Regions from separate parts of the Homo sapiens genome. Here regions 1, 2 and 4 are each linked to region 3. The links come from fine-mapping of genetic effects on gene expression. A gene starts in region 3. Each other region holds a variant in brackets. All regions are shown on one strand. Distances are between the middles of the regions.

Region 1 (2,616 bases), 67 kb before region 3:
AAGAAAAAAAGGGGGGGCGGAATTTATATAAAAAGAGTATTATATGGTAGATTCTTGTCCTGAAATAAGTTAACTGGTTGTTTAAAGAAAGAAATATTTGTAATAAGTCAGAAAGTTGAGGCATGTCGAAGAATTGTCTGTGAAAGTCATGAAAGAGAAAAATGTTATAAAAAAGAATTTATGCAAAAAATGTTGTATAATTTAAAAGTAACTAGGCCTCCTGAATGTAAAACTATTAAAAAAAAAAACAGTTTATGTGCAAGGTGTATAAGAAAAGTAAAATATACCTTTGGTAAAAGGATTATAAGGAAGCATAAGAATGTACATTTTTACCTACATTAAAAAAAGAAAATTACTGTTTTGAAGGTTTAAACATGTTTTAAAATGTTAATTGTAAAGAAAATTCTGTGTGTAAACATATTAGCTAAAGTTAAAGAAGTATCATCCAGTTTTTCTGTGAACTGGACATTAAAGTAAAAGCATAACAGGTTTATCTTAAAGCACCAACCTGCTCTTTAGCAAAAATTGTAAGGAAGGAGACCACTACTACTCCTGCTGCCCTCCTCTCCCCACCTTGCCTAGTTCACAAGACAGGAAGAGAGAAAAAGCAAAAAGTTGGAAAAAAACAAAAGTAAGATAAATAGCCAGACAACCTTGGAACCACCACCCGACCCTAGGAGTTAAAAAAAGTAATAATAACATCAACCCCTGACCTAAACTACTTGTGTGATCTGTAAATTCCAGACACTGTATGAAAAAAAGCATTGTAAAACTTTTTGTTCTGTTAGCTGATGCATGTAGCCTCCACGCTTGCTTGATGTATCACGACCCTTTCACGTGGACCCCTTAAAGTTGTAAGCCTTTAAAAAGGCCAAGAATTTCTTTTTCGGGGAGCTCAGCTCTTAAGACGCGAGTCTGCTGATGCTCCCGGCCAAATAAAAACCTCTTCCTTCTTTAATCCAGTGTCTGAGGAGTTTTGTCTGTGGCTCGTCCTGTTACATTTCTTGGTTCCCTGACCGGGAAGCGAGGTGATTAAGGGATGGTCCAGGCAGCCCCTTAGTTAGCTTATGTCTGCCCTGTAGAGCATCCCTGCAGGGGACTCTGGCCAGCTTGAGCAACACGGATCCTAAGAGCGCTCCCGGGTAGGCATTTGCCCCGGTTGAACACCTCACCAGAGCAGCGCACAGCAGGCCCCCGCGGAGGATCAACGCAGTGGCTGAACACCGGGAAGGAACTGGCACTTTAAGTCTGGACATCTGAAACTTGGTAAGACTGGTCTTTGGAACTTGCCACTCCTCTTGAGTGGAAGTGTGGCCTGATCACCCATGGCGTGCCTGTACCGGCACATTGGTTTTTGTTTTTGACTTGACTTGAATTGCTTGATACTTTGGTTTTAGTTTTGATTTTGACTTGACTTGAATTGCTTGATAAACAGACATGCCTTTATTGGCACTTTGGTTTTGGTTCTGATTTTGACTTGGCTTAAATTGCTTGA[T/C]GAACAGGTGTGCCTTTAACAACACTTTGGTTTTAGTTTTCATTTTGATTTAGTGTGAATTAGATGAGTGAGTGACCTTTTATCCTTTCCTTCTTGTAGTGTGAATGTTGTTTTGTCTCAAGAGAAAAATAGGTCAGACACAAAGTAAGCCTACTCCACTAAGAACTGTGTTAAAAAAAATTTTCAAAAAGAAAAATAAAAGGAAAGTCATCAAATCATCAAAACTTATTCCATTAAAATGCAGGTTACAGAACCTTAAGAAGGGTTTTGCAGGAGATTATAGAGTTAAGTTAACCCCTAGAGGCTAAGAACTCTGTGTAAATTAGAATTGCCCTCTTTTGGTGTTGGATGGCCCACCGAAGGAACTATAGACAGGGAACAATTGGCCATGTATTTAAGGTGGTGACAGGGGTTGGAGGACAGCCAGTGTACCTAGATCAAATTACTTTATATTGACTCATGGTTAAATATAATATAGACAAAATGGGCATAAATTTAGCCCTGTTTAACAGCTTATTGCAAAAAAAGCCAAAAGTAAAAGTAAGAGCAGCTTCGCCAGCAGACATGGAGTTAAAAAGGGAGTCCCAGAAACAGCAACAGAAGCCAGTTTTGCAGGAGCTGCCAGAGATAATAGAAATTCTTTCTCCATATGTCCCAGCCTATCCCCCTTTACCGAGGCCAACAGCCCCCTCAGAAATGAGATTCAGGAGCTAACATGCCCCAGGTCTCACCTCAAAGGGGAGGATCGGAGCCTCGAGAGGCCGAGGAAGGAAGTCAAGATAGTCAAGTGGGCCCTCTCAGATCTGGTCTTGCTCGAGCTATGCAAATGCCTCTCAGGGAGACGCGAGGACCTGTCTATTATAATGACCAGGCCCACATCTGGGGGGGCAACAGACTTTCATCTATCAGCCCTTTTCAACCATTGATCTACTAAACTGGAAATACCCTGAACCCTCCACCTTGCTCCTGGCAGCTAGAGCCCTGTCGAGCATAACTGTGTAGAGGTGTTGGACTCAAGTTTACTCTAGCAGACCTGACCTCCAGGACCAGCCTTGGGCATCAGTAAACTGGGAGCTATACGTGGACGGGAACAGCTTCATCAACCCACAAGGAGAGAGATG
Region 2 (2,616 bases), 65 kb after region 3:
AAGCATTTCAACTAAGTGCAGTATGTGTCAGAAGAATGCTGATGTAAGTTACATTTTACTTTTATTGGGATTCTGCTGAAAGAGATTTTTTTTTAACTGGCTCTGCTTATTTTGTGTGTGTATGTGTGTGTTTATTTCCTAGACTCGATTTGAAGTTAAATATCAAAATGTGGTACATGGTCTTTGTAGTGATGCCTGTTTTTCAAAATTTCACTCTACAAACAACCTCACCATGAACTGTTGTGAGAACTGTGGGAGCTATTGCTATAGTAGCTCTGGTCCTTGCCAATCCCAGAAGGTTTTTAGTTCAACAAGTGTCACGGCATACAAGCAGGTATGAATATCTATTTGTTGCATGTACTTAGGCCCACTCCTTCTGATTTGGCTGCACAGGGATGAACTACAAAATGAGAGTGAGCTCCTCCCATTAGTCCATCCTGATATGTGATTTCCCTTCCAGAAAATGGGATAGATTCTGATGGTGTGAGGGATGATTGTGGTGGTAAGTTGATATAGGTAAAATAGGTCCCTTTTTTAAGGCTCCCTTCATAGCTAAGAATTTACAAATGTGATTTCTTTTCTTTTTTTGAAATCGAGATAGGGTTTTGCCATGTTGCTCAGGCCGGTGTTGAACTCCTGAGCTCAAGCCATCCACTCGCCTCAGCCTCCCAAAGTGCCGGGATTACAGGCATGAGCAACCACACCTCGGCCTCATAAATGTAATTTCATGATTTTCTGTGAGCATGAAATATTTTGTGATGTATTGATAGCAAGAAAACCATATTATAAATAAACCATAAGCAAGAGTTAAGATGATAAAATCAGTGAATCTAAACAAAGCTTGTCTTTTTCATTTCAAAATGTGTTTGGGAATGAATTGTAATTATTTGGTCAACACTGTCTCATGAGAATACTTCAAGTAATTTTATTTATTGTAATGAATAATGGATTAAGCCGGTTACTAAATATTATCACCTTGTGTCAATTTAATTATTACTAATTTGTGGTTTTAAAAAGTTTTTCTTAAAGAAGTATCTTGTAAGGCCGGCGCGGTGGCTCACGCCTGTAATCCCAGCACTTTGGGAGGTCAAGGCGGGTGGATCACGAGGTCAGGGGTTCGAGACCAGCCTGACCAACATGGTGAAACCCTGTCTGTACTGAAAATACAAAAATTAGCTGGGCGTGGTGGCGGGCGCCTGTAATCCCAGCTACTCAGGAGGCTGAGGCAGGAGAATTGCTTGAACCCGGGAGGTGGAGGTTGCAGTGAGCTGAGATTGTGCCACTGCAGTCCAGCCTGGGTGACAGAGCAAGACTGTCTCAAAAACAAACAAACAAACAAA[A/C]AAAAAAAACAAAGATGTATCTTGTAAATGATAATTAAACTTTTTTTCAGTTAGCAAGTTTGATTTGTTGCTTCCTTTGAGCAGTTGGTAATGGACATATGGACATTCATCACTGAAAAGAATCTCTTTTTTTAAGATTTGCCATTTTTGGCAGTCTGGTTCTACTTTCACAGGAAAAGAATCCATGTTATTTTATATATGATCCCAAAATCAGTTCCATTTCTAATTTTGTTACTAGTATTGTACTCTGTCTTTTTACTAGGAAGATTATGTAGTGAAACCTCACAATTTATATTTTCCTACAATTTCTTTTCATATTGAGAGACCTTATAATGTATCACTGACAGCATAGTGTAGTGGTTAGGAGCCTGAACTTTGGAGCCTGATGAAATGAGTTTAATTTCCTACTTCTTCTGCTCATCTGTTAATTTAAACTTTTTGTTAATGTAATTTTTGAGAGCGCCTCACTCTGTTGTTGAAAGGTTTCTGTGATACACTATATATAAATTTCTTAGCCTGGGGCCTGACTCATGGTAAGCATTCAGTAAGTTATAATATTGGTTATGTAAATGGTAGCTATTTTTATTATTTCTTAAAACATGAATAAACTTATAAGCAGATTTTATTATGAAACTCAGCTTGAAAAATAGGTAGTTGTGTAGGATCTCTATTAATATACATTAAATATCATTTCTATCTCCTGCTAAAGAATCTCACAAATTAAGTAACCTTAAAGGTGGTAGACTCTTCTAGATTGATGTACAAGACTATACCAAGAATGACCCTTTGGTTCATGGGTTAGCTGGTCTTCTCTGGTTATTGGTGATTAAAAAGTATGTAATGACTATTTAATTCATTACTTGTGTTTGAATTCATGTGTTTTGTTTGCTAAGATCTCTATCTGAATAGTTACTAATTTTCTTCAGTTTCTATTTTATTGTTGTCTGGAAGAACTTATTTTCCCACCTCCCAATAGTGTGGTTTCATCATCATGCTCAAATATTTCAACCAAGGACCGTGGTTGTAGGTAGCTTTTCTTTTTACTTTTTTGAACAATATGTAAATATGTATGTTTGTACTAGGTATCTAATGTTATTTTATTTTAATAGAATTCTGCCCAAATTCCTCCATATGCCCTGGGGAAGTCATTGAGGCCCTCAGCTGAAATGATTGAGACTACAAATGATTCAGGAAAAACAGAGCTTTTCTGCTCTATTAATTGCTTATCTGCTTACAGAGTTAAGACTGTTACTTCTTCAGGTAATGTTTAAATTTG
Region 3 (2,616 bases):
CAAAAATTAGCTGGGCGTAGTGGGGAGCACCTGTTGTTCCAGCTACTCTGGAACCTGAGGTGGGAGGATCGCTTAAGCTCGGAAGGCTGAGGCTGCTTGTGAGCCGTGATCGTGTCACTGCACTCAGCCTGGGCCAAAGAGCGAGACCCAGTCTCCAAAAAAAAAAAAAAAAAAAGAAGCACAAATATATGGGAACTAGAAGGAGTGGGACTGTTGTTGCAGATAAAGTACAAGTGCAAGAGTGCTAGTAGAAGGAACTGGAAAGTTTGAAAAGTAGACATGGGTCATGTCAGGAAGGTCCCTGATACCAAATACCTTAAAATTAATCTTGTAAATCAGCAGCGTTCAAACTGTGCTTTTGGGGTTCAGCAAACATTTCATTTTTTTTTTTGAGACGGGGTCTCGCTCTGGAGTGCAGTGGCACGATCTCGACTAAATGCAACCTCTGCCTCCCGGTTCAAGCGATTCTCCTGCCTCAGCCTCCTGAGTAGCTGAGATTACAGGCGCCTGCCACCAAGCCCAGCTAATTTTTGTACTTTTAGTAGAGACGGGGTTTTGCCATGTTGGCCAGGCTGGTCTCGAACTTCTGACCTCAAGAGATCCGCCCGCCTGGGCCTCCCAAAGTGTCGGGATTACAGGCTTGAGGCACCACGCCCGGCCAGGAGTCAAACTTTTGAAAAATCACTGCTCAATGAAGGAGAGATACAGGTGTGATGGGGCTTCTGAAACGGAGGCTGCGGAGCGAGACTAAAGTCTGAAGGCCCAGTTACTACACAGGAGCAGGAGGCGGCGAGAATCGCTGGAAGCGGGGAGCACTAACCCCCCCAGTCTATGAGGGCAAGGTTAAAGGAGGCGGCAAACACAATCCACGTCAGGGCCTGGCCCGGAGTTCCCGACCCCCATCTGGCGGAATCCGCACTCAAAGCTCCGTCTCTAAAACCCCGACCCGGCGCGTCATCCTCCCTCCGACCGACAGCAGAAACCCTGCCCCTTTCGAGTAAGGCGCAGGAGTAAAGACCGAAACCAGAGCCGCATGAGGAGGCTTACTAATTTCTCTCAGGGACGCCCCGCCCAACGCTTCTGAAACAATCTTCGAAGCGAAACGGCCCCGCCGACCCCGCCCCTCTCCCGTCGTGCTCTGCGGTTGAGCATGCGCAGGGCCGCTGGCTCAGGGTGGTCCCAGCTCCCTGAATTGGGAAGAGCGACTTTGGGATAGAAGAAGTGGGAGAGGGGGAGGGGAAGAGTCCTTACGGCCCGCATAGGATCTTACCCTTGAAGTCGTCGCTGGCTGGCAGCCAAAGTAGGACCCTTGACTCAGAGCTCAGGCAGGGCAGTTAGATTTCCTGGATTTGAGAGATGGCTTTACTACTTATTAGCTGTGTGCTAGTAAGCGATTTGACAACTTCTATAAATCTCCATTTCTTCGACCTTGAAATGGGGATAATTGTAGTGGCTGCATCGTAGGTTTGTAAACATTAGGCAGGCTTCTGCAGAAGCTGGACTCAAAAAAAAAAAATATGACAGGCAATGTTAGCAAAGTGCCAGTTGCAGAGTAAATTCCTAGTAAAAGGAAATTATCCTCAGAGGTAGGGAGGGAGTTCAGACTTCTTTCATTAGTACGTTAAAATTAAAATGACCCCAGGCTGGGTGTGGTGGGTCACACCTATAATTCCAGCACTTTGGGAGGCCGAGGCGGGTGGACTGCTTGAGTTCAGGAATTCAAGACCATCCTGACCAACATGGTGAAACCCCGTCTCTATTAAAAATACAGAAATTAGCCGGGCATGGAGGCGGGCGCCTGTAATCCCAGCTACTTGGGAGTCTGAGGCAGGAGAATCGCTTGAAGCCAGGAGGCAGAGGTTGCAGTGAGCTGAGATTGTACCACTGCACTTCAGCCTGAGCGACAGAGAGAGACTGCGTCTCAAAAAAAAAAAAAAAAAAAAAAAAAAAAATTAAAATAACCCCAAACTGCATGTCAAAAATAATGGCATATTTTAAATGTTTTTTGACAATACTTTCAACACCTAAAAAAGTATAGGACGAACTAACTGTGCTATTCCTAAAGGCATAAGAGGATTCTAAAATATATATATAAGGTTGAATGATGAACTTATTATAATCATATTTGACAATTACTTTTAAAGGAGATATTCTCAAAAATCTAAATTTGAGGCCCTTGTGAAGGTGAGGTCCAGACCAAAAGGGCCTCCTAATCCTTGCTGCTATGGTCCTTAAATATCCTTTGGAATTAGCCTCAAATCTAATATAAACCCTTTGGTAATTTGAAATATTATACGAGTAACTGAAGTTAATTTCTCCAACATTTATTATTACCTTCTAATATTCATAATAATCTGTTTAGACTGTTAGGATTAGAAAGGACCTTACTGAAATGATCTCTCCTCTAATGCTCCCTTCCTACCAAAGGAAAAGCTGAAGGCAAGAGGATAAAGGTAATTTGCCCCAAGTTACACAGCAACTCAGTGACTGGGATTAGATTGGAACCCAGAAATGAGTCCTGGTTCAGTGGGCATCCAAAGGCAAGTGATGTCATTGTAAATGCCCCGTGGGTTCACCTTGCCCGCTACCTAAACACAGTCCATTTATCAAGACGGG
Region 4 (2,616 bases), 81 kb before region 3:
TATACTTCATGCAGTTTTCTAGTTGTTTACAGCACTAAGGGAAATCTGGTACCAGTTTTCTGTCTGAGCTGGAAGCTGAATACAACAGATTTGTTTTAACAGAGACAGAACAAGTTGGAAAAAGTTATAAATAGTCACACGAATTTCCATTTTACACAGGAAAACGTAATGAACATTTTAAAAAACAGCTTAAATGAAGTAATTGATATACAATAAACTGCACATATTTGAAGTACAAACTTGATAAAGTTTGACATATGTATACACCAATAAGATCATTACCACTGTCAATCTAAATAATAAAGAGAAAGAGGCTCTCTAAAAGAAAAAGAGATTTATTCAGGAGTTACGCATTGCAATGGGAATATGTGTGCCACAGTAAACTATGTATATGTATTGAATAGGTAAAGAAAGACAAAGGTTTTGGCTGGATGCGGTGGTTCATGCCTGCAATCCCAGCACTTTGGGAGACTGAAGTGGGTGGATTACATGAGGCCAGGAGTTCGAGACGAGCCTGGTCAACATGGCGAAAACCTGTCTCTACTAAAAATACAAAAATTAGCCGGGGATGGTGGTGCATGTCTGTAATCCCAGCTACCGGGGAGACTGAGGCGGGAGAATCAAACCCAGGAGGCAGAGGTTGCAGTGAGCTGAGATCACACCACTGCACTCCAGCCTGGGTGACAGAGCAAGACTCTGTCTCAAAAAAAAAAAAAAAAAAAAGAAAAAGGAAAAAGACAGAGGAGAAAGGTTTTCAAAGGAAAAAATGAAGAGGATTACATCATTGTTTTGAAATGATATCCTTGGCTATAAAAATCCTTAACAAGGGTGTTGCCTGGCTGAGGTTGGACAGGCAGTTGCTTGGTAGATGTCTTTGCAGATGAATTTTTTGTGTAAGTTTGTGATGGCTTTTTTGCAAGGTTGTGTTTTTTCAAGGGTCTTTTGTGATAGCTTCTGTTATGAGACATACAAGCCTTCCCTGGCTCTATTTTTTTTTTTAAACACTAGTGACTCCTAGTGTTAAATCTCAATTCTAACAACTTTCACATTACAATCAAGATAAAATGGCTGCCACCCCCAAAAGTTTCCTTGTGTCCCTTAGTAATCCTTGACTCCTGTACCTATACATCCCTCCTTTGCCTCTACCAATCTACAGGCAACCACTGATCTGCTTACTTACCACTATAGGTTAGTTTCCATTTTCCAGAATTTTATATGAATAGAATCTTTGACATGTGTTTTGTGTGTGTGTATGTGTGTGTGTGTGTGTGATGGAGTCTCCCTCTGTTGCCCAGGCTGGAATGCAATGGCGCGATCTCAGCTCACTGCAACCTCTGCCTCCCGGGTTCAAGCAATTCTCTGCCTCAGCCTCCAGAGTAGCTGGGATTACAGACACCAGCCACCACGCCCAGCTAATTTTTGTATTTTTAATAGA[G/A]ATGGGATTTCACCATCTTGGCCAGGCTGATCTTGAACTCCTGACCTCATGATCCACCCACCTTGGCCTCCCAAAGTGCTGGGATTACAAGCATGAGCCGCTGCACCCGGCCTCTTTTTTTTATTTGGCTTCTTTCACTCAGCATTATTTTGAGAGTCATACACATTGTTAGGTGTATCAATAGTTTGTTGGGTTCTTTTCTGAGACAGTCTCACTCTATTACCCAGGCTGGAGTGCAGTGGCATGATCACAGCTCACTGCAGCCTCGACCTCCCAGGCTCAGGTGATCCTCCCACCTCAGCCTCCCAAGTAGCTGGGACCGCAGGTGCTCACTACCATATCTGGCAAATTTAAAAAAAAATTTTGCAGGCCAGGTGTGGTGGTTCACCCCTGTAATCCCAGCCTGTGGGAGGCCAAGGCAGGGCCAATCACAAGGCCAGGAGTTCGAGACCATCCTGGCCAACATAGTGAAACTCTGTCTCTACTAAAAATACAAAAAAAAAAAAAAAATTAGCCAGGAATGGTGGTGCGTGCCTGTAGTCCCAGCTACTTGGGAGGCTGAAGCAGGCGAATTGCTTGAACCCAGGAGGCAGAGGTTGCAGTGAGCTGAAATCACATCACTGCACTCCAGCCTGGGCAACGAGTGTGTCTCAAAAAAAAAAAAAATTTTTTTTTTTTTTTTTAGCAGAGATGAGGTCTTCCTATGTTGCCCAGGCTGGTCTGGAACTCCTGAGCTCAAGCAATCTTCCTGCCTCAGCCTCCCAAAGTTCTAGGATTATAGGTGTGAACCACCATGCCTATCAGTAGTTTGTTTCTTTATTTCTTTTCTTTTTCTTTTCCTTGTTTTTTTTTTTTTTTTTTTGAGATGGAGTCTCCCTCTGTCACCCAGGCTGGAGTGCAGTGGTGCAATCTCAGCTCGCTGCAATCTCTGCCTCCCGGGTTCAAACGATTCTCCTGTCTCAGCCTCCCGAGTAGCTGGGATTACAGGAGCCCACCACCACACCCGGCTAATTTTTGTTTCTTTAGTAGGGACAGCATTTCACCACGTTGCCCAGGCTAGTCTCGCACTCTTGGCCTCAAGTGACCCACCCGCCTCAGTCTCCTAAAGAAATACCTAGTTTTTGTATCTACGCAATGTAATGTATTCTAATAATTTTCTTTCTTTTTTTTTTTTTTTGAGA

Which allele goes with the higher level. Positions count from the first base shown, and alleles are read on the strand shown. Sizes are in standard deviations (SD) of each study's normalised expression. Not every link is listed here.
As copies of T replace C in region 1, the expression in subcutaneous fat of the gene that starts at base 1,105 in region 3 goes up (small effect, 0.35 SD a copy in GTEx).
With allele A in place of G in region 4, the expression in esophagus muscle of the gene that starts at base 1,105 in region 3 is lower (moderate effect, 0.47 SD a copy in GTEx).

What was found. PIP is the estimated chance that this variant, and not a neighbour inherited with it, causes the effect. A credible set is the group of variants that fine-mapping cannot tell apart.
Region 1: its variant is the best candidate, but not a certain one, in a credible set for the expression of ZMYM1 in subcutaneous fat (GTEx, PIP 0.55).
Region 2: its variant is the best candidate, but not a certain one, in a credible set for the expression of ZMYM1 in whole blood (INTERVAL, PIP 0.76).
Region 4: its variant is the best candidate, but not a certain one, in a credible set for the expression of ZMYM1 in esophagus muscle (GTEx, PIP 0.76).

The regions. Positions count from the first base shown.
Region 1 is chr1:35,144,949-35,147,564 of GRCh38, reverse strand. It overlaps LOC105378644 (a long non-coding RNA gene), which reads left to right and starts at 740. Exons shown (of 3, transcript XR_947180.3): 1 at 740-1,266; 2 at 2,469-2,616. The variant T/C (reference allele first, on the strand shown) is at 1,496.
Region 2 is chr1:35,012,415-35,015,030 of GRCh38, reverse strand. It overlaps ZMYM6 (zinc finger MYM-type containing 6), which reads left to right. Exons shown (of 16, transcript NM_007167.4): 5 at 1-43; 6 at 143-334; 7 at 2,450-2,600. Among named protein-coding and RNA genes, the nearest start is that of ZMYM6, 18 kb to the left of the region's middle. The variant A/C (reference allele first, on the strand shown) is at 1,341.
Region 3 is chr1:35,077,874-35,080,489 of GRCh38, reverse strand. It overlaps ZMYM1 (zinc finger MYM-type containing 1), which reads right to left and starts at 1,105. Exons shown (of 10, transcript NM_024772.5): 1 at 1,048-1,105. RefSeq lists an enhancer at 680-1,198.
Region 4 is chr1:35,158,683-35,161,298 of GRCh38, reverse strand. No RefSeq gene overlaps it. Among named protein-coding and RNA genes, the nearest start is that of SFPQ, 33 kb to the left of the region's middle. The variant G/A (reference allele first, on the strand shown) is at 1,436.